Homo sapiens: one gene and its partners. The protein of the gene in region 3 interacts with the protein of the main gene of each other region in a pairwise test. Each region holds a gene or a part of one and is shown on either strand. Other genes may lie near its edges.

Region 1 (7,105 bases), on a different chromosome or scaffold from region 3:
AGCACAAGGTGCTCGACAAATCTCTGTTGACTGAATGCATTCCCAGAGCTCTCCGTCTTCTGGGCTCTACCCTCTAACACCCAGCACCTGATCTGGCCCTGTTTGCATCACACACTCTCAAATGCCACAGGCCTCCTTCTCAGAGCACAGCAAGGGACACTGGCATGGCTCAGTGTCAGCCTCAGTCAGCATCTGTGGAATGACTGATCAAAGCCAGAGTTCCCCAACTTGAACACACATGAAGTATCACCCAGAGCACTTGTTAAATACACATCTACCTGGGTCCCACCCCTAGAGCCTGGGTTGGAAGCTGTGGAGTGGGGCCCCGAATTCTGCATTTTTTTTCTTTTTTTCAAGGCTCCAGCAATGTCTTAGACATTTTTTTGGAGACAGGGTCTTGCTGTCATCCAGGCTCCAGTACAGTAGTGTGATCATAGCTCACTGGAACCTCCAGCTCCCGAGCTCAAATGATCCTCCAGCCTCAGCCTCCCAAATAGTTGGGATTATAGGTGTGCATCACCATACCTGGCTAAATTTTTTTTTTTTTTTTTCCTGAGACAAAGTCTCGCTCTGTCACCCAGGCTGGAGTGCAATGGCACGATCTCGACTCACTGCAACCTCTGCCTCCTGGATTCAAGCAATTCTCCTGCCCCAGCCTCCCAAGTAGCTGGGATTACAGGTGAGTGCCAACATGCCCAGCTAATTTTTGTATTTTTAGTAGAGACGGGGTTTCACCATGTTGGTCAGGCTGATCTCGAACTCCTGACCTCGTGATCCACCCACCTCGGCCTCCCAAAGTGCTGGGATTACAAGCGTGAGCCACCGCGCCCAGCTAACTTTTTAAATTTCTGTAGACACAAGGTCTCACTATTTTGTCCAGCCTGGTCTCAAACTCCTGGGCTCAAGAGATCTTCCTATCTCGGCCTCCCAAAGCACTGGGATTATAGGTGTGAACCACCACGCCTGGCCTGTGTTTTAAAAAGTATCCCTAATGAGGCCGGGCATGGCAGCTCACACCCATAATCCCAGCACTTTAGGAGGCCGAGGCAGGTGGATCACTTGAGGTCAAGAGTTTGAGACTAGCCTGGCCAACATGGTAAAACATCGCCTCTACTAAAAATACAAAAATTAGCCAGGTGTGGTGGCACACACCTTTAAACCCAGCTACTTGGGAGGCTGAGGCACGAGAATCACTTGAACCTGGGAGGCGCAGGTTGCAGTGAGCCAAGATCACACCACTACACTCCAGCCTGGGTGACAGAGTGAGACTCCGTCTCAAACAAAAGAAGAAAAAGTATCCCTAATGAAAGCAGGTGATTCTCAGACCTCAACTGGAGGAAGGCTTGACTGTGCATCTTGCCTTTGCACCTGCACTGTGAGTGTCCTGAGCACTCGTTACACATGTGCTGTGATTCCCACCCAAATCACGGCCTGAGTATAGGTGCATGTCTTCTAAGATTTCAGTATCCTAATGGGAATACTAGCATCACAACTTCACATTTACAAAGCCACTTTCATATTCAAATCTTTTTGCAAAGTTACCCACTCGGAAAGATAATAGTAACATAAAGGTAAGTGGAAGAAGCAGATTGCAAAATAGTTTGTATGTATGTGTGTCTCTGTGTGCATATTGTAATTTTTATTGTGTATCCTTTTAAACTACCACAAAAGGTTTGGAACAAGGCATGGTATAAAGAAATAAGTAAACAAATAAATCCCTATGCCTGTAGTGAGGATATAAGGTTTGTTTTGTTTTGTTTTGAGATGGAGTCTCACTCTGTTGCCCGGGCTGAAGAGCAACGGTGCGATCTCAGCTCATTGCAACCTCTGCCTCCTGGGTTCAAGCAATTTTCCTCCCTCAGCCTCCTGAGTAGCTGGGATTACAGGTGTGCCCCACCACGCCCAGCTAATTTTTGTATTTTTAGTAGAGATGGGGTTTCACCATGTTGGTCAGGCTGGTCTCCAACTCCTGACCTTGTGATCCGCCCGGCTCGGCCTCCCAAAGTGCTGGGATTACAGGCATGAGCCACCGCGCCCAGCCTGATATAAAGGGTTTATCATGTGTACTTTCAGTCATATGTCTTGCTTTTCTCCCCCTCTTTTTTTTCATAAGTAATATGTTTAGTAAAGAAATTTGGAAAGCATAACAAACTAAAACAAATTAAAAATCACCTATAATTTTGTCCACTATTACCTCCCAAAAAAGAAAAAAAGAAAAATCATTTTCATCTACTTCATTTGACCTTTCCAACCACCTTGTGGGGTAGGTAGTAGATTACTGGCTCCATTTTATGGATGAGGAGACTGAACCCCAGTAAGGTGGGTGATTTGCTACCATCGTCACTCTGTGCATTGGGAGCATAGTGGGACCCAGGTCTCTAGATTCCTAGTCTATTGCTCTTTCCTCTGTACCCAGAGGACCATTTTTCTGTGAGGGCTGTCACTATTTCCTCTGGAGCACCCACCCTAACCCCTGTGCCTGGCTCTCTACTGTCTACACCGACTCCCAGTAGTGAACTGATTCCCAAGCCTGCAGGGCCCAGAACTGAGAGGACCTCAGGTGAGTACCAGGGAAGCCTCTGTCCATCACACCCAGACCTGTGTTCCCCTCCACCTCTCCTTGACCTTCAGGGCAAAGGTGCTCACTGGCCACAGTGATGTTGACATCCTGTCTCCGCTGACCAGCCAGGTTGGCCGCGTGGCAGGTGTAGACACCAGCATCACTTTCAGCAATATTGGCCAACACCAGCTCGTGGCCCTTCTGGTAGACCCTGCCATGGGTGGGCAGCCGGACTCCCGCGTGCTCCCACCACACGCTGGGCTCTGGCAGACCCTTGGGGGGAAGGCAGGTCACACGCTCCTCGCTGCCAGCTGTAAACACCCGTGGCTCAAATAGCGGCATGTCTTCAATCTCTGCAAGGACATAAGTAGGAGGAATGGCCCAATTATTGTGGGTCTCAGGGTACATGATGTTCTCCCACAGCAAGCCTAGGCCCTTTCCCAGCACAAACCCTCCCCTGCAGCCCTCTGCATATCCTCTTCCTACTCCCAGCATCCTTTTCTTCCCCTGCCCTCCAAGCGGCTGAGTAAAAACAGAAGCCTAAATCTCTATGTGCCAAAAATGTTAAAGGCAGCCTCCCACATCAGCACCCCAGACCCAGAGACTCACCTGCTAGGTGAAGTGTGGCTTCCAGGATGATGGGTGGGCCCCTCTGCCCCTGGCCAATGCAGCGGTAGATCCCTGCATTGCGTGGCCGGACCTGGGTCAGCAGCAGAGACCCGTTGGCAAACACTGTGGCTCTGCGGAGGTGTGGGGGGCTGCAGAGGGGAGAGTGCAATTTGGAGAAAGTGGCCAATAGGCCTAGTTCTGGAAAGGAATGCAAGGGAACCCCTTTCCTGCAAAGTCGGAAATGTAGTAAGGAATCGACCAGGAACAGGGCAGAGAGAAGGAAGCTGACACTCCAGACTGGTGTGTGTGCCTGCATACACTTGCTCAGGTGCACGTGCAGGTGTGTGTTCCAACTACAGGAGATCAGCTCGGGAAGCAATGAGGCAAATGGCAATGCAGGTGCGAGAGAGAGTGATATGGTTTGGCTGTGTCCCCACTCAAATCTCATCTTAAATTGTAGCTCCCATAATTCCCACATGTTGTGGGAGGGACCCAGTGGGAGGTAACTGAATCATGGGGGCAAGTCTTTCCCGTGCTGTTCTCATGATAGTGAACAAGTCTCACGAGATCTGATGGTTTTAAAATGAGGCATTCCCCTGCAGAAGCTCTCTCTCCTTTGCCTGCTGCCATCCATGTAAGACGTGACTTGGTCTTCCTTGCCTTCTGCCATGATTGTGAGGCTTGCCCAGCCATGTGGAACTGTAAGTCCAATTAAACCTCTTTCTTTTGTAAACTGCTCAGTCTCGGGTATGTCTTTATCAGCAGCATTAAAATGGACTAATACACAGAATAACCACCATGTGCAACTGTCAAGACAGGGAAGCCACCTTCCCACAGGGCCACGTTGATAGGGCACCCAGCTCCAGGGTCAGATACCCCTCAGCCATACCAGGCAGGCTACTGATGATGTCCTCAGGGCTGAAGCCAAGTGGCATCCAAGCCCCTAGCCTAGGAAGCCACACCCCCAAGGACCATGGTCGTGCCTGACACTGCAAAGGTGTTCTATGTTCTCCTAGGGTCCAGGCAAGAACAGAAGTCCCTGCAGTAGGGCTGGAACCTTCTAGAGGTGTTTGCTTCCTCTAAAAAGTGTGTGTGTGTGTGTGTGTGTGTGTGTGTGTGTGTGTGTGTGTGTGTGATGTCTTTGCCACACTGGATCACGCTATCTAGACTATGACCACCTGACTACCTAGGTCTCTTGTGTCTCTCTCATCCCTGGGGTCTCTACCCTTCCATCCCAGAAGACCCATGTGGGTGGTGGGGAGAGAGAAGTGGAACCATCACTAGCTCAGAGTGCCTTTGTGCAAACTGGAAAAGGGCTCTTCCCAGAGACTCTTCCCTGTGTCAGACTCATCTTGTAAAAGCAAAACATTCAACTGTGTCTCTTGGAAATTTGAAATAATACATGTACAAATCTGTGATGTCTGTGATACAAATCGCACCCCCTTCTACAGAATGCATGTGTGTGGTACATGGTACTGGAATGCTCCCAGCCAGATGCCTTACCGACTGCGGTTAGTGATGGGAGTCTCATCCTCAAAGAGCCACTGCAGGCTCGGGGGTGGCTGGGCTGAGAACTGGCAATGGAACATGGCCTCCTCATACCTCGCTACTACCACGTCCTGGGGTGCCAGCACCACCCTGGCAAAGCTTTCATCTGGAGAGGGAAAGATGGGGGAGCATGCAGCCTGGGTGGTGAGGCCCTCCTGTGCTCACCTCATCCCTTCCGCCCCCACCCCAGGCTCACCAGCAATGCTCAAGGTGAAGTTCTGGCTGCTGCAAGCCTGGCCAAAAGCACTGTGGGCGCAGCAGGAATACAGCCCACTATGCTCAGGACCAGCTGGCCGGAGCGTCAGGTTCCGCTCCTTGCTGCTGACTGTGTGGTTGCTCTGACCATCAGAAAGGGGGGTCCCATCTCGGAACCATTGGTAGGTGGGCCTGCAGGGCAGACACAGTCAGCAGTGGTGGGGAGGGGTACTCAGTGGCCAGTGGAGAGGATACAGTATCAGAGGGTCAGGGCTAGACCTTTCAGTTTATACATGGAGAAACGGCCTGAGGAAGGGAAGGGACTTGCAAAAGGGCACACAGTAATTCTGATTCAGGGGCAGAATCAAGTTGATATTAGATCTCCCAGCTCTACACACAATGTGGCTCACTCTTCAGGCCACCAGGGGCCGGCATAGGGCAATATCTGGGGGAGGGCAGGGTGAAGAGCACTGTGGTGGTGGAACGAGTGGTCACAGAATGGAGCGAGGTAACATCCGCATAGAGTCCAAGATTTGGGGAGACATCCCTGTCCGGAATAACCCTCTTCATCCCCACCTCCCTGACTCCTTACCGAGGGTGCCCATCAATGTGGCAACGAAGTGTGACCTGGGTCTGTGGCTGGATCTCAGCTTCCGAGGCTGGATGCTTCAGGACCACAGGACCTGCCTCAATCCCTGTAGCAGAGGCCACGGTTGCAGTGAGGGGCAGAGCAGGGCAAAGGCGGGAAGGCAGAGGGCAAGGAGGACAAGCAGGAAGCCGTGGAACCTCGAGGCTCTGTGCCAACAGACACAAGGAAGCCCTGGAGGCTGAGGCTGGGGCTACAGTTACCAGATACTAAGTGCCTGCCTGGTCCCTGGCAGGTCAAGTCTGACACTTGGCCAAGGGCTCGGCCGCCCTTTCCATTTGCACAAGCATGCAGCAGATAAATGGGTCCCAGACTTGAAGGAAAAAATTTTGGAAAAAATATAACTTTTAATTTCCTCTTATCCACATGAGCAAAAAAAGCTGATGATAAATGCATTCTGCCTGGCCCGTTTAACTGGAAATGGGAGAAGCTGAGGTAAGGGAGGGATCCCCCAGGCCTCAGTCATTGAGGGTCTGACAGGGGGACTGGGCACAGCCCCCCTGGCTCTCACATTTGATGTTGAAGGAGGCGTTGGCACTGCGGGCTTCTTCTCCAGTGACATCATCCCGAGCCACACACTGGAAGGTGCCAGAGTCCTGCAGCCGGTCCACAGCTGCAAAGCTCAGGCTGCTGCCCTGGGCGAAACGCCGCTCCGTGTCCTGGACAGGGGCCCCATCGAGCAGCCAGTACACATGTACCGGGCCCGGAGCCTCAACCTCACAGCGAAGCAGCGCCCGGCGCCCCTGCAGTGCATCCTGGGAGGACGGCTGCTTGATGAAGACAATGGCTGTCTGGGTACCTGTAGATGCAAACAGGGGAGAGGCAGGGTCAGGGGGAGCTGCAGCCTCTGTCCTAACACAGGCCACCTTGTGCACAGGAGGAAAGGGGCTGTGTACACAGGAGGCGTCCAGTAAGTGCAGGTGTGAAGGATCATGATGCCACAATTGCAAGAGTCCCCTGAAAAACTTTTCTTTTTCTTTTTGAGATTTCTTTTTCTTTTTTTGCTCTTGTCACCCAGGTTGGAATGTGGTGGTGTGATCTCAGCTCACTGCAACCTCCACCTCCTGGGTTCAAGTGATTCTTCTGCCTCAGCCTCTCGAGTAGCTGGGATTATAGGCATGAGCCACCACACCCAGCTAATTTTTGTATTTTTAGTAGAGACAGGGTTTCGCCATGTTGGCCAGGCTGGTCTCGAACCCCTGACCTCAGGTGATCTGCCCACCTCGGCCTCCCAAAGTGCTAGGATTACAGGCGTGAGCCACCACGCCCAGCCCCCTGAAGAGCTTTTCAACTGTGCTGAGTGCTCTGTAGGATACAAAGACACAGTAGCCTCTCCTCAAGAGGTCTGAAGACTAGAGGGGCACACAGAACACAGTTACAGTCACATAAATGCCAAATGAATGGGGTGGGCAGGCAGTAGTGACTTGAGCACGAAGGAAGAAGGGACCCCTAAGGGCTGGCTGCACAGGGAGGCTTCCTAGCAAAAGAGAGTCTGGGCCTGCAGGGTGAGATCACAGGAGGTTTTGATGCCAGGCTGAGGAGCCGGG
Region 2 (7,105 bases), on a different chromosome or scaffold from region 3:
CTCAGGGCGTCATGATTTCTAGTCGTCCTGAGCCCTGGGGCCTGGAGCTGTCCTAGGCTGGAAGTGGGCATGGGGACACCGCCTCGCTCCGGCTTCTGGAGAGGCGCGCTCAGCCTGAGGGTGGGGGTCAAATGCTCTGCACAGTTAGGAGCAGGGGTTTGCCCTGGGGCCACCTCTGGTTTGCTGAGGGGCCCTTCTGTGACTGGCTCTCCATGCCTGTTTTGTCATCTGTAAGGTGGGAATGGCTGTGATGGCCAGGTCTGAAGGGACAGCAGTGGTGCACTGAGCCAAGGGTGGGTACCTGGGCAGTGCCTACCATGGCTGATCCCTGACGCAGAGGTGTCACTGTTGACCAGTGGGCAGGGCTTGGAGTTTGTGGAAGTTCTCGGAACACGTGGCAGCCTGGATTTGCCACCCCCCAACCCCCGCCTCTCCCCTGTCCCTCAGCTCACGCCCTGTCTCCTGCCCAAGGTCTCTCCCTGTGTCTGACCTGAACCAGGCGCCATGGGGGGTTCCTGGGAGAAGTGCCTGTGCCTGGCCACGGTGCTCGCTCTATCAGCATTCATGTGAACCGGACACCTGGCACAGGGCTGGGCAGGCTGGGCCTCAGGATGAGCCTATTGATGGGGAGAGGGCAGAGGAGGCAGCGAGCCCCGGGCCAGGCATGGCCTCAGTGGCAGGGGCAGGGCTGGACTCAGGGGCTCAAGGGGCTGAGCAGGAGGCCATGGGCCTGGGTGGTCCCCGGGAGTCCTCCCCTTGGAAGGTGCCCCACAGCTGACACTGCCCGGGCACCAGGTGTGGAGTCTGTTTGAAGGCAGCTGCTGCTTCAGTCTCCCAGACCACTCAGGCTCAGGCAGCAAGCACCTGCCCTGGGAGGAGTTACCTGTCCTCCTCTCGCCCCCGGGGTCTCAGAGGATGCCCCAGAGGAAGCTGTGCCCATGAGTTCGGCCCATCCCCCTACTTCCTCTCAGGTCTCAGGTCTCCCACCGAGACCCTTAGGCTGCAGGTGTGCAGGCCGAGGTGGGTTCTTGGAGAGGGTCCCATGGGAAGGCTGTGTGGACAGTGGCCTTGGGGAGCGGTCACACGCAGGCCGTGGGCCCTGGGCACGGGTCCGGCTCCCACCTACCAGCATGGGTGCGGGCACTCGGGGAGGGTGTGGGTGTCGGCACTCGGGGAGGGGGTGGGTGTGAGGCCCCACACTCCCAGGCATGGGTCAGGGAGAACATTTCTCTCATTCCGGCACATTCTCCAGGAGGCCAGGCTGTGCGCTTCCCTCCATGGGGTGGTGCAGTGACCCAGAGGACCGGCCCCTGCAGTGGCCACCCTGTGGGCCCGAGTGCCCCAGAGCTGGCTGGGGTGGGCTGGCAGCTGTTGTGTTGTGTGGAACATGCTGGAAGGTCTGCCTTGTGCCACCCTGCATGTTTGGGATGCATCGACTCCCCGCCATGCCCTCTGCCTCCCCGGCTCCCAACCCTGACCCTGCCTCACGGGAGAGTTCTGGCGTGGGCTGGTGTCCTGGGCCGGGCCCTGCTGTGTGACCATGGACAGGTCTCATAACTTCTCTGTGTCTGTTTCACCTCTGAAATGGGGTCCGGCAGCACCCACGCTCCAGGAGGTTCCTGAGAGAACCCGGGGGCCGTCACGGCAGCTCCAGGGCTGGTGACTGTTCACGTCCTCTCTGCACTCACCCACCACCCCGGCCGCCTGGGAACTGTGCTCCTGCCTGTGCCCCCTGGAGGCATGTGCTGAGTGGAATATGTCACCCCAAACCCATGCCCGCCCAGTACCTCAGAATGGGGCCTTATTTAGAACTAGGGTCTTTGCAGCTGTAATCAAGTTAAGATGAGGTCGGACCGGAGTAGGGTGGGCCCTGAATCCAATGACTGGGGCCTGATAGAAAGAGGAGGAGTGGCGTGCACGCGGGAAGGAGGCCACGTGCAGAGGCTGGAGTGATGCAGGCCCAGGAGCACCTGGGGCCGCTGTGCCGGAGAGGCAGGAAGGATCCCGCCAGCGCCTCGAGGGAGTGGCCCTGCCCATGCCGTGCTTTCCTCCTCCACTGTCCAGAACTGTGAGCACATCCATTCCTTGCCGTCTGGGCCAGCAGCCCGTGGTCCCAGGACACACATCTGGGGGTCTCCTTGGGTCTGAGGGGTGAGCACAGCTGCCTCGAGACATCAGGAGCCTCTGACTCCATCCTGAGAAGAGTTATCCTTGGAAGAAAATGAGGCCACGTGCTAGCCCCCAGCCTCAGAACCCTCCAGGGCGCTTGGCTGGGTGTGAGGAGGAAGCAGGCCGGGGCCACAGCTGCGTGGCATCCTCTGCCTCCTCCTCGGTCCACGGGGGAGGCAGAGGGTCCACGGAGCACCTCGGTGTCTCCTCGGATGTGGTGTCGGCGGTGAGCCTGGGACCACGCTGTTCTGCTGTCACCGGCCTCCTGTCTCCAGCTCACGGGGTTCTTCCGGGGTAGGCTTTTCTCGAGGGCCACCTGACCCCTCTGTGCACGCCAGGGCAAGGCTGACGGGAGGCCCACTCGACCACTCCTGGGTGGGAGCCTGATGCAAAGCACCTGCCGTGGGGCCTCGGCCTGCGGTCCTGTCCCTGGTGGCACAGATCCAGGGGCCCAGGAGCCCGTGTCCGTGGTGGGGAGACTCCCGTCCCCTCCGCAGGCCACAGTGACAGGAGGGCTTTGGCGTCTGGGCCCCCCTGGGCCTTGCCCTGCCTTTCACAGAGGAACAAGCGCCCGCGGGACCGGCGGCCTTGGCCTCCCCGCCCCCCCGCAGAGGAAGCCGGCAGAGGAAATGAGGGCAGCGGACGGGGCCGGAGCCAGTTCCCAGGCACCTCTGAGAACTGTCACGGGAGGCGGCGTCCTCGCCGGGTCTCCAGCCTCCCTCCGCAGGGACCGGGGCCTGGGGTCAGGGGGCTGCGGCCTTGGGTGGGGCTGGGGCGGGCTGGGGTCCTCCCGGGGGTCACTCTGGGGTTACAGCCACGGTCAGAGCCACGCGGGAGCGACACCCAGAGCCTGGTACGTGGGGGTTTCTGGGAGGATGCGGGCTGTGCTCCCACTGCCAGCCTGGGGGTGGGGGCCGTGGCCAGGAGACTCCTGCTCCTGCAGGGACCCTGCCAGCGGAGGTGGCCGTGCCAGAGCAGGCAGGGCCTCTGCAGTGGGCGATTCTGGGCAGCCGGGGCCACCTGCCCCAGGGGGAGTGAGGGGCAGGATGCTACCCCGAGCCAGGGCTGCTCAAGGCCACCTCTCACGGCGGGGCGTGGCCAGCCTATCCCCATCTCACCCTCGGGGAGGGTGTGGGGTCCCTGCTGCTGAGGGACAGGAATCTGGCTCTACCCACCTGCCAGGGTCCCCAGGAAGACCCCTCCCTGTCCCTGGTATCGGGTAGCCCTGGCCAGCTGGCCTGGGGGAGCCAGGCTGGGGGGCAGGGGAGCTGGTCCGGGACCAGGGCTCTGCCGAGTCACCTCTGTGCCAAGGCCACGGTTTGAGGCTGTGGCTTGAGGCCGTTGTGGGATGGAGCTGGGGATGCCGTCCTCGGTGTGAGGATCCTCCGACGAGGCCCTGGTGCTCGGTGGGGCCCCTCTGGCTTCCCTTCTGCTCTGCTTCTGGGAATTCTTAGTGACTCTGAACAAGGGGCCTTGGGTTCCCTTGGTACTTGGTCCTGCGGATTCTGCAGCCGGTGGGGCTTGCTTAGGGTTTGGGCTCCGCTGTGAGGCCCACGTGGAATTTCCTCGAACCCCCTGCGAAAAAGGCGTGTGGCTTCCTAGTGACCACGGCACACACAAGTGCGCTCTGACCTCCGGGGTGCGGGTCCGGGGCTTCCCCGCATTGGATTTACCCGCGCGGCAGCACGCCCAGCCCCCGAGAGTCCCCGCCACTGCCCCCAGGACTGCTACCTGGCCGGTCACTCGCAGGCCGCCGGCGCCCTCCCAGCTGCCCCATGTTGGGGATCTCGCTCGCTCTCTGTGAATGATGCTCAGTTGTGGGCTGTCCCGTGGGCTGCTATCGTGGACGCTGGAGTGAGGGCCCCTTTACTGAGAGGTAACTCACATACCAAGGACCCACCTGTGTCAAATGAGCAGCTGGGGCTTTCCTGCATTCCCAAGAGTGCAGCCATGGCACGGCTAGCTGTGGAGCATCCCTGCCCCTGACAGAAGCCCCATGCCCGAGGGCATCACTCCCCATCCCCTGCCCCCAGCCCTGGCAGCCACCGATCTGTCTCGGTCTCTGGGCCCCTGGCCTGGACGTCTGTCTCATAAGCAGGGTCCTGTGGCCTTGTCCTCTTTGGGCCCTGAGGTTTTCGCTGTGTGTATAGCGGCCCCAGGGATCAGGGGTGCTGGTGTGTGACTGTGGGGCACTGTCCAGGGAGCTTCCAGGAGGTGGTGCCATTTTGCCCCCATCCCCATGGACGAACGCCTCCATGGCTTCCCCTCCCGCCAGTGCTGGCTGCTGTTTTTATAACGCCCGGGCTCGTGAGCATGTGGGGGCTGCCCATGGTGGTCTTGTCTGCCTTTCTGTGGCGAAAGATGTCAGGAGCCTTTCCAGGTCCTGCCCAGCTCTTCTGAGCCCCTCAAGCGAGTGCCCATTGGAGGTATTTTTTGGTGGTTTGTACCTGGTGTCGGGCAGCCCTGGCCAGCTGGCCTGTGGGAGCCAGGCTCGGGGCAGTGGGCAGGTCCTGGACACAAGGCCTCAGGTCTGTGCGCAGTGAGCAGGTGGCCTGCTGCTTCACTTCCCGTGACCCTGTGCAGGGCTGAGCACCAGCAGCTTCCACCCTGAAATGGGCCGAGGTGAGAGCACTTGCGGCAGGAGCCGGCACACGCCCCGCTTTCCTTCCCAGGGAGCTGGGTGCAGACACTGACCAGCACACCGCCAGGCTCAGGCACCTTCTCTCCCTGGGAAGCTGCCTGGAATCTCTGTGGCCCAGAGGCAGGTGTCCCTGAAAGCAGCTCCTGGCCCCAGGGATGAATGACGGGGAGGACGGACCCTGCTCGGACCCTGGCTCTGGAGGCTGGGCCCCGCCCTGCTCTCTGCCGCGGGGTCTGGCGAGATGCTTGGCTGCTGCTGGAGCCTGAACTAGCGCGTCAGACTGTTTTATTTTTCCTTCTGTGACGGGCGGCCCTGCAAGTCTTGTCTAGAAATACCCGTGGCCGGCATGCATCCGCGACGCCCGGCCGCCCTGGCCATGGACCTGCCCGTTTCCTCCTTGGCAAGCCTGAGCCCAGCAGCCCCCTGCTGCTGCCCAGCCAGCACTGAGGGAGGGACTCAGTCCGTGCAGGTCTGTAGGGGGCCAGCTGGATGCCCGGCTGTGTCAGGGCCGGGGTCCTGAGACGCACAGGAGGGTAGGCCCCCACGAAGAGCGGGACCGAGGGCCAAGGTGTTGGGGGACAGTGTGCGTCGAGCAGAGACAGGCCAGGAGCGAAGAGATGGGGGCTGTGGGACCTTAGCTGGAGCTGCCTGCCCCTTGGAGGCTTCTCCACTGTCAGGGATCAGCCTCCTGGGGAACCGGGGGCATTCCAGGTGCCCTTCCCACCCTTGGACCAGCCTTGGGGTAGGCCCTGGGGCATCTGATGCTGATGCAGGCTGGGCCTGGGCTGTGTGTTGTGTCAACAGAGGGGACATTCCTTGTGAGTGTCCAGCTGGTGGAACTCACTTCCGTCCCTGGGCTGGCCTGGGCTGGGCACCCATGTTTGATTGCAGGGTTGGCTGTCGAGGGGCAGGAGAGGCGGACTTAGAGATGCTGGGGTGGTAACCCCCGGGAACTGTGCGGGGGTTCCCTGCAGCAGAGAGTAGGGCTGGTCCTAGCACTGGGGGAGGGCCGGATGCCCACCTTGGGGCTGCCAGCGTGTGCGGCAGGCATGTGCGTGGAGGGGTACGTGTGCGTCTATGAGCAAGTGCAGCCCCAGGTTGGAGGCGAGCGTGTGCATGGGCTGGTGCGGTGCCCGCGGTGTCGGATGGACCCGGCCCGGGCCCGTGGACCTTGCCATGTCCTGGGCTTGTCCCGGAAGCTTACATTTTATGTGGCCTCTCCTAAAAATAACCGTGGCTGGCCTGCATCCTCCTTATCCGTGGACATTCGGGCTCCCCTCTCTTGGCGGGGGCGGTGTCTTGTGACTTACAGCCCCTGCCCTGTCCTCACCTGCCACCCAGAATCCCACGCGGCAGATGGTGCCCACATCTGTCTGGTCTCGGGAGTGACTGTGGGGATGGTTCAGGGCTGGGCACGATGCCGCCACCAGGGCCTGTGGGGGCACCGTTGCTGTCCCAGAGGCTCCTCCTGCCCTCTCTCCCCTGTGTCGGGAGGCCTGTGGGGTCTTGCCGTACCCCGCCCAGGGCCCTGCTTCTGAGTTGGGGAGGGGGTCCTCAGTTTCGTGCCTGACTGGCGATCAGGGCCGAGGAGGGGTCTGCTGGACTGGGCTCTCTGTAGCAGGAGCTGATTGAATCCCAAAAGACACAATCCCAAGTGCCATCATCCTGAGTGTGGAAATCCCAAAAGGTCAAAATTCCAAAAACCGAATTCAGGAAAAAAATGATTTAAAAGATTCTTTAGAAGACATTTAGTCTGGGCGCGGTGGCTCACACCTGTAATCCCAGCACTTTGGGAGGCCAAGGCAGGCGGATCACCAGGTCAGGAGTTTGAGACCAGCCTGGCCAACATAGTGAAACCCTGTTTCTACTAAAAATACAAAAAATTAGGCGGGTGTGGTGGCTGGCGCCTGTAGTCCCAGCTCCTCGGGAGGCTGAGGCAGGAGAATGGCATGAACCCGGGAGGCGGAGCTTGCAGTGAGCCGAGAAGCACCACTGCACTCCAGCCTGGGCGACAGAGCAAGACTCTGTCTCAAAAACAAAACAAAACAAAAAACATTTATTTGCATTTGAAAAGGGATTTATTTGAAAAACATAAAAACTCAATAAAAATAAAAACTTCAGAGGCCACTTCACACAATAACACAGGCCATAGTAACATACATTGTAACATAGTAACATACATTGTAACATGGTAACATACATTGTAACATAGTAACATACATTGTAACATGGTAACATACATTGTAACATGATAACATACATTGTAACAGTAACATACATTGTAACATGATAACA
Region 3 (7,105 bases):
GTGTTGGAGCTCCAGTTGCCCAGAGTGGGACTCTGCTCGCTTACACATCCTTCACTGGTTCTCCTCCCTCTTGGGTGCTCTGCATGCCACACCGTGCTCCCGGGAGCACCTCTCAAATAAACAACATGCACCCAAACTCTAGTCTCAGAGTGTGCTTTTAAAGGAAACTAAACCAAGGTACAGCTAATTTAAAAACATTTAAAGGTGAAAGACACGGTATACATATATCAAAACATCACATCGTATCCCACAAATACAATTATTATTTGTCAATTAAAAATAAAAATGTAAGGAGAAAAGAAAAAACAAAGCTACCATGATAACAGAAGATGCAAGAGGCCGAGCAGTACTTGACCACTAAGGCCTGGAGTGCCATTTCCTTCCATGAAAGTGACCTTGCCTTTGAAGAGCTATCAGCACAGGGACTCCTCATTAACTCAGACTCTAGTTCAGACTTTTTTTTTTTTGAGATAACGTCTCACTTTGTCACCCAGGCTGGAGTGCAGTGGCACAGCTCACTGCAGCCTCAAACTCCTGGGCTCAATATCCTCTTGCCTCAGCCTCCCAAGTAGCTGAGACCACAGGTTGCACCACCACACCTGGCTAATTTTTTTTTTAAAGTTTTTTTGTAGCCGGGCACGGTGGCTCACGCCTGTAATCCCAGCACTTTGGGAGGCCAAGGCAGGTGGATCACAGAGTCAAGAGATCGAGACTATCCTGGCCAACATGGTGAAACCCCGTCTCTACCAAAAATACAAAATTTAGCTGGGTGTGGTGGCGCATGCCTGTAGTCCCAGTGACTTGGGAGGCTGAGGCAGGAGAATTGCTTGAACCTGGGAGGCAGAGGTTGCAGTGAACCGAGATCGCGCCACTGCACTCCAGCCTAGTGACAGAGCGAGACTCCGTCTCAGAAACAAAAAACAACAACAAAAAAAGTTTTTTGTAGAGATGGGCTCTCACCATGTTGCCCAAACGGGTCTTGAACTCCTGGGCTCAAGCGTTCCTCCTGCCTCAGCCCCACAAAATTCTGGGATTACAAGCATGAGCCACTGCACCTGGCTTATTTCAGAATTTTCTATTGCAAGGCTTGCATTTAGTTAAAGGTTTCCTTTGCCCAAGTAGGAAAGGTTTTAATCTGAATTTGAAACTGTAATTTGACACCATTATTTTACTTTATGCATAAAAAAACCCAAACAAGCAAAAAACTTTTTATAGTTTTTTTTTTTAACTAGGAAAAAAATACATCAAAATGTCAATACCATGGGTGACTTTTTCTTCTGTTTCCTAATTTGGGATTCTTTTAATAAATAGTGATATTTTATAATAAATAACCATGTGTATATTTTTAAACTGTGCTGGCCAAGCAGAACAGTCTTGGCAGGAAGCTGCTTGTGACTTCTATTTTGCGATTTCTACCCCATCTCACTTGCTCCTGGGGCCTGGCACTGTCACTGGCCCCAGCAATCACTGAAGACCCTCAGATCTACATGTTCCATCCTCCCTGAGCTCCAGTGCCTTCTTTGACAAAAATGGAGCTAAAGCTAGAGGGGCAAAATGCTTTTTAAACAAACAAACAAAAAAACAAAAAAATTTCAAGCTGAACTCTTTTGCTTGCTAAGGTGGCAGATGGGAGAAGCGGCCTGGAGAGATGCATAATTCATTTCAGTGGGAAAATTAAAATCTCTAAGTAGAACCCTTGAGGCTGCAGAGATTGGCTAGGGAGCAATGCCTAGGAATGAGAGCATGTGTCAGGAAAGAAGGCTTATCTTTTTTCTTTTTTTTTTTGAGACAGAGTCTTGCTCTGTCACCCAGGCTGGAGCTCACGGGTTCAAGCGATTCTCCTGCCTCAGCCTCCGGAGTAGCTGACACTACAGGCACCCGCCACCCCACCCGGCTAAATTTTGTATTTTTAGTAAAGACAGGGTTTCACCATGTTGGCCAGGCTGGTCTCAAACTTCTGACCTCAAATGATCCACCCACCTTGGCCTCTCAAAGTGCTGGGATTACAGGCATGAGCCACCGCGCCCAGCCATCTTAATATTTTGAAGAGCCACATACAGGCTTCTTGCTTAACAGAAAGCACAATTTAAGGATTTTTTTTTTTTTCCGTAGAGACAGGGCCTCACTCAGTTGCCCAGGCTGTGGTGCAGTGGTTCAATCATGGCTCGCTGCAGCCTCAATCTCCCAGGTTCAAGGGATCCTCCCACCTCAGCCTCTAGAGCAGCTAGGACTGCAGGCATGTGCCACCACACCCAGCTAATTTACTATTATTATTATCATTTATTTTATTTTATTTTATTTTATTATTTTATTTTTGTAGACATTGTCTTGCTATGGTGCCCAGGCCTGTCTCCAACTTCTGGCTTCAAGTGATCCTCCCATTTCAGCCTCCTGAAGCACTGAGATTACGGGTGTGAGCCACTTTGGCCTATTTGAGGGTCCCTTTGATGGGAAAAACATGAGTTCTGTGGCATGGCCCAGAAAGAGGTGGAGTGAAACAAAGAGAACTAAATTGTTCTGTACAATAAAGCAAGAGACTTTTGAGTTTCCTAGAACATTCTAGAAGGAGTATGAGGGGGCCCTGCGGCAGGACTGAGGAAAGGACCAACTGGGGCCAGAGACCACCAAGTGAGGAGTTTCTGGGGGAGGAATAGCCACGAGATTACTGAGAACGGGGGTTCCCAACCTTCAACTTGGCAGTGCCCCATAGCTGTGGCAGCCCTCTCATTGGGACCCTAACCCTTCAACAGAATTGTTACACACAACAGCCATGTTCTCGGTGACTCCAAGAAATCAAAGGGAAAGAGGCTGGCGCTGGCAGAGAGAGAAAGCAGAAGTTTGTGAAGCAGCAGATACAGAACCATCCCCTTCTTGTACAAAAATAAATTTCCCCAAAATATTAACACTGGCTACATGCTCGTTTTAGGGTGACGAAATTATATGTGATTTTTGTTTTCTTTTTTTAAAGTAACCATCTTTTCTAAATTTTCTGTGCTAGACATGTTTTACTTGAGCATATGGAGGGAAAAAAACAAAATTCCATGAAAGTTCTATTTTAGAAGTGTTCTGCACGGAGTAGAAGCTCACCCAAAACCCCCGGGCCGAGGCAGGAAGGTGGCCCTCAGGACAAGGTCTGACCCTGCTCCTTACATCTCTCCAGTGGCACCGAGTGCCTCCTGTCAAGTGGGAGCCCCCCGAAGGCAGCTCTGTGTCCTCCCCGAGGCTGCCCATGGCAGCAGTCAGGCCTCCGTGGTGTCAGAAGGTCATCCTAGCCGCCTGTGCCTCCTGAGAAAGCAGGAGGAATCTAGGTTTTGTGGATCTTGAAGCTTATTCAATTTCTTTTTTCTTTTTTTTCTTTTTCTTTTTTTTTTTTTCTTTGAGACAGAGTCTTACTCTGTCGCTCAGGCTGGAGTGCAGTGGTGCAATCTCAGCTCACTGCAACCTCTGCCTCTTGGGTTCAAGCAATTCTCCTGCCTCAGCCTCTCCCAAGCAGACACGACTACAGGTGTGTGCCACCACACCTGGCTAATTTTTGTATTTTTAGTAGAGATGGGGTTTCATCATGTTGACCAGGCTGGTCTCGGACTCCTGATCTCAAGCAATCCTCCTGTCTCGGCCTTCCAGAGTGCTGGGATTACAGGCGTGAGCCACTGCACCCGGCCTGAATTTCTTTAAGTAAAAGAAAACCAAACAGGTATAGGGCCTTGGAAGCGGCTGGTGCAAGTGCAGGGTTCTGAAGCTTGGGGTAAATCCACCTCGGAGTAGGGGGGATCTTCCTTCCCCTCTGACTTCAGATGAAGAGGGCAGCCCCCCTCCCCACCCCATCCCTTACAGTGTCAGAGCCAGCATCATTGATTCTGCTTAGCTTGGTCTTAGTCTAACTCAGCTGACATGGGGGTGCTCTGGCGGGTCACGAGAAGGAATGAGGAGTGGCATCGTTCCCTCCTTGACTTCCCCTCAGAAGTTAGGCCTGGCCCTGACTCCAAAGCTTTACCGTGTATGCCCCTGTGTAGGGTTGGGCTGGGCCAGGCCAGCATGGGAGGGGATCGGAAAGGGGTGTGCTGAGCTAAGCCAGGGAGGTCTCTGCCTTCTAGAGGTTTTTAGCTGAGTAGAACAATTTATAGTGTAAACATTTAAAAAATTCTCCTCTCCCTAGAGGTCAAGACTAGCCTGGGCAACATTATGAGACCCTGTCTCTATAAGAAAATATTTTATTTTATTTTATTTTATTTTGAAACAGAGTCTCACTCTGTCGCCCAGGCTGGAGTAAAATGGTGCAATCCAGGCTCACTGCAACCTCCGCCTCCCAGATTCAAGCGATTCTCCTGCCTCAGCCTCCAGGGTAGCTGGGATTACAGGCGCTCACCATCCCGCCCAGCTAATTTTTGTATTTTTAGTAGAGATGGGGTTTCACCATGTTGGCTAGGCTGGTCTTGAACTCCTGACCTCAAATGATCCACCCCCATCAGCTTCCCAAAGTGCTGGGATTATAGGCATGAGCCACTGCACCTAGCCTTCTGCAAGAAAATTTTTAAAAATTATATACATATAACAGAAAAGTTACCACCTTAGCATTTTAAAATACAGTAAAGGCTGGGTGCAGTGGCTCAGGCCTGTAATCCCAGAGCTTTAAGAGGCTGAGGCGGGAGGATTGCTTGAGTCCAGCAGTTCAAGACCAGCCTGGGCAACATGATGAGACTCCCATTTCTACAAAAGATAGAGAAAAAAATAGCTGACCATGGAGGTGCATGCACCTGTGGTCCCAGCTACTTGGGAGGCTGAGGTGGGAGGATTGCTTGAGCCCAGGAGTTTGAGGCTGCAGCGAGCTATGATCATGCCACTGCACTCCAGCCTGGATGACAGAGTGAGAACCTTCTAAATATGAAAAATCCTCCTCTCCCTTCGAAGGCATTCTGTATCTGTGCCTGTGTGTAGATCCATTGCATTTTCATGTTTCTAAAGCATGGCGCTCATGGGGAAAGCTGGTCTGTGTTTAAGTGCCTGTGTACCACGTTTCTTCCATGACACCACCCAAGTTGGGCTTGGATATGCTTGGAAAGAAGGGGGAGAGTAAAAATGTTATTGTGGTTGGGTGAATTACTCTATTAGGAGAGTAATACCTACTGCTAGGGTACGTGGGGAGGGGCGGAATTTGGCAGCAGTGTCCATATGTAAATATGTACATATTTTTAACTTAGTACAAGTTAGTGCTTGTCTTTACGCATTTTAGATATACAAAAATGATCCCAACTAGGGAATGAAGTAAGTGGATTTTTTTTAAAAAGAAAACTTGGACGTAAAAACTCAGGAATTTTTTGTGGCCTATAATTTAATTCCTAATGTATCAGACATATTCCAAGTTTAACAGATTTTTTTTTTTCTTTTGGATTCTGGCAAGTATGTTAACAGGAGGCAATTATGTGAATTAATATAAAATCCTTTTATTAAAAAATACAGAAGAGCCTTCATTTTAAAAGTAATTTAATATTCCTTCTCTGATGGTGTTGATGTCATGAACTTGTTTGATTAACTCTTCAAATGGTTTCAAAGCGCTTGGGGTTGTAATTTATGAACTTCTAATTGATTTCCCCAATCTTGGTTTGGCAGAGGAGGGCCTCCCGGAAGCCCTGAGGAGGCTGGAGGCCACACTCAGCTTCCTTCTCAGACAAGGGAGCCGGCCGGGATGGACTTTCTCGAGCGGCCAGGGGAGAGGGAGCTGTGGCACTGGAGACCCAGACCATGATGTCTGACCAGGCCCGTTGTGGTTCCTGAATCCTAAGCAGCTGGGCCTTCACTCCCTCTGAAGATGTGTGGAAACACCACAGGCGGTTTCACAGGAACCATTTCCCACTGGGCCTCACCTCAGAACAAGCCTTCCTTGTTCGGGGAAGGGCAAGACTCCGCAGGTGCAGCCCTCACCATGGTCCTGCCGCTCCACCACTTCCTGTCCAGGCCACTTATTCGTCACTGGTCCTGTCTCAGATGCTACACAGAGGACGCTCTGGGCCTTGGGAAGGCGAGGGGCTAAGGCTGCCACCTCTTAAATCTGCCACCCACAAAAGCTCGCAGAGAAATCAAGGCCTTGGCTGGACCCAGGGAAATGATTGTGTTGCTTTTATTGTGTGCCCAGTGATTATCTACTCTCAAAACCTTGTAGATAGTGGCTGGGCACGGTGGTTCACACCTGTAATCCCAGCATTGTGGGAGGCCAAGGCAGGCGGATCCCTTGAGGTGAGGAGTTTGAGACCAGTCTGGCCAACATGGTGAAACCCTGTCTCTACTAAAAATACAAAAAAAAAAAAATGAGCTGGGCGTGGTGGTGTGTGCCTGTAATCCCAGCTACTAGGGAGGCTGAGGTATGAGAATCACTTGAACCCAGGAGGTGGAGGTTGCTGTGAGCCAAGATCATGCCACTGCACTCCAGCCTGGGTGACAGAGTGAGACCTTGTCAAAAAAAAAAGAAAGAAAGAAGAAAGGAAGGAAGGAAGGAAGGAAGGAAGGAAGGAAGGAAGGAAGGAAGGAAGGAAGGAAGGAAGGAAGGAAAAGAAAGAAACGTTCTAGATAGGGAATAACTGCCTCCACTTTACAGATGAAAAAATGAGGGTCAGGGAGGTTAAGAAACAACACACCAAGCTAGTAAAGGGTGCAAATAGGACTCAACCCAACAGCCCCACATCCCAACCCACCACAATAGATACTTCACTATATTCTTGGTCACAAAGTATAAGCTCCTGAGGGCATGCCTGGGCCTCTCAATTCTGTATGCTTCCCTCCCTAGAGTGGAGCACACAGTCATGTAAATTTGCAGCAAGCAGCTCTTATGGGCCTTGGAATCTCACTACCTGGGCTTCGGCTTCCTCATCTGTCAAATGGGGATAACTTGCACCTCACTGGTTGCTGAATTAAATGAGATAATGTAAGCCCTTGGCACATCCGCATGAGCTCAAAGAGGGTTTCAGGGAGCAGAGACAAGGAGGCGGCCTGGAGGGTGGGTGGGGAATTCCCAGCTGTACTGGGAGTTGTGTTCCCAACCGAGAATAGGAAAGAGTGGGTGGAGCAGTTTGGCCGGGGCGGAGGTCTTGGTAGGGAAGCTGTGGCGGAGGAG

What was found.
Region 1: the proteins of DUSP29 (region 3) and PTK7 interact in a two-hybrid assay, tested with the Homo sapiens proteins (one study listed by BioGRID and IntAct).
Region 2: the proteins of DUSP29 (region 3) and AATK interact in a two-hybrid assay, tested with the Homo sapiens proteins (one study listed by BioGRID and IntAct).

What each region holds. Positions count from the first base shown.
Region 1 is NC_000006.12:43,128,229-43,135,333, reverse strand, and holds part of PTK7 (inactive tyrosine-protein kinase 7 isoform a precursor), read right to left. Parts: intron 6,358-7,105; coding exon 6,070-6,357; intron 5,608-6,069; coding exon 5,505-5,607; intron 5,105-5,504; coding exon 4,914-5,104; intron 4,824-4,913; coding exon 4,673-4,823; intron 3,319-4,672; coding exon 3,170-3,318; intron 2,914-3,169; coding exon 2,647-2,913; intron 1-2,646. UniProt on the Homo sapiens protein: Inactive tyrosine kinase involved in Wnt signaling pathway. Component of both the non-canonical (also known as the Wnt/planar cell polarity signaling) and the canonical Wnt signaling pathway.
Region 2 is NC_000017.11:81,156,153-81,163,257, reverse strand, and holds part of AATK (serine/threonine-protein kinase LMTK1), read left to right. Parts: intron 1-7,105. UniProt on the Homo sapiens protein: May be involved in neuronal differentiation.
Region 3 is NC_000010.11:75,063,598-75,070,702, forward strand, and holds part of DUSP29 (dual specificity phosphatase 29), read right to left. Parts: intron 1-7,105. UniProt on the Homo sapiens protein: Dual specificity phosphatase able to dephosphorylate phosphotyrosine, phosphoserine and phosphothreonine residues within the same substrate, with a preference for phosphotyrosine as a substrate. Involved in the modulation of intracellular signaling cascades.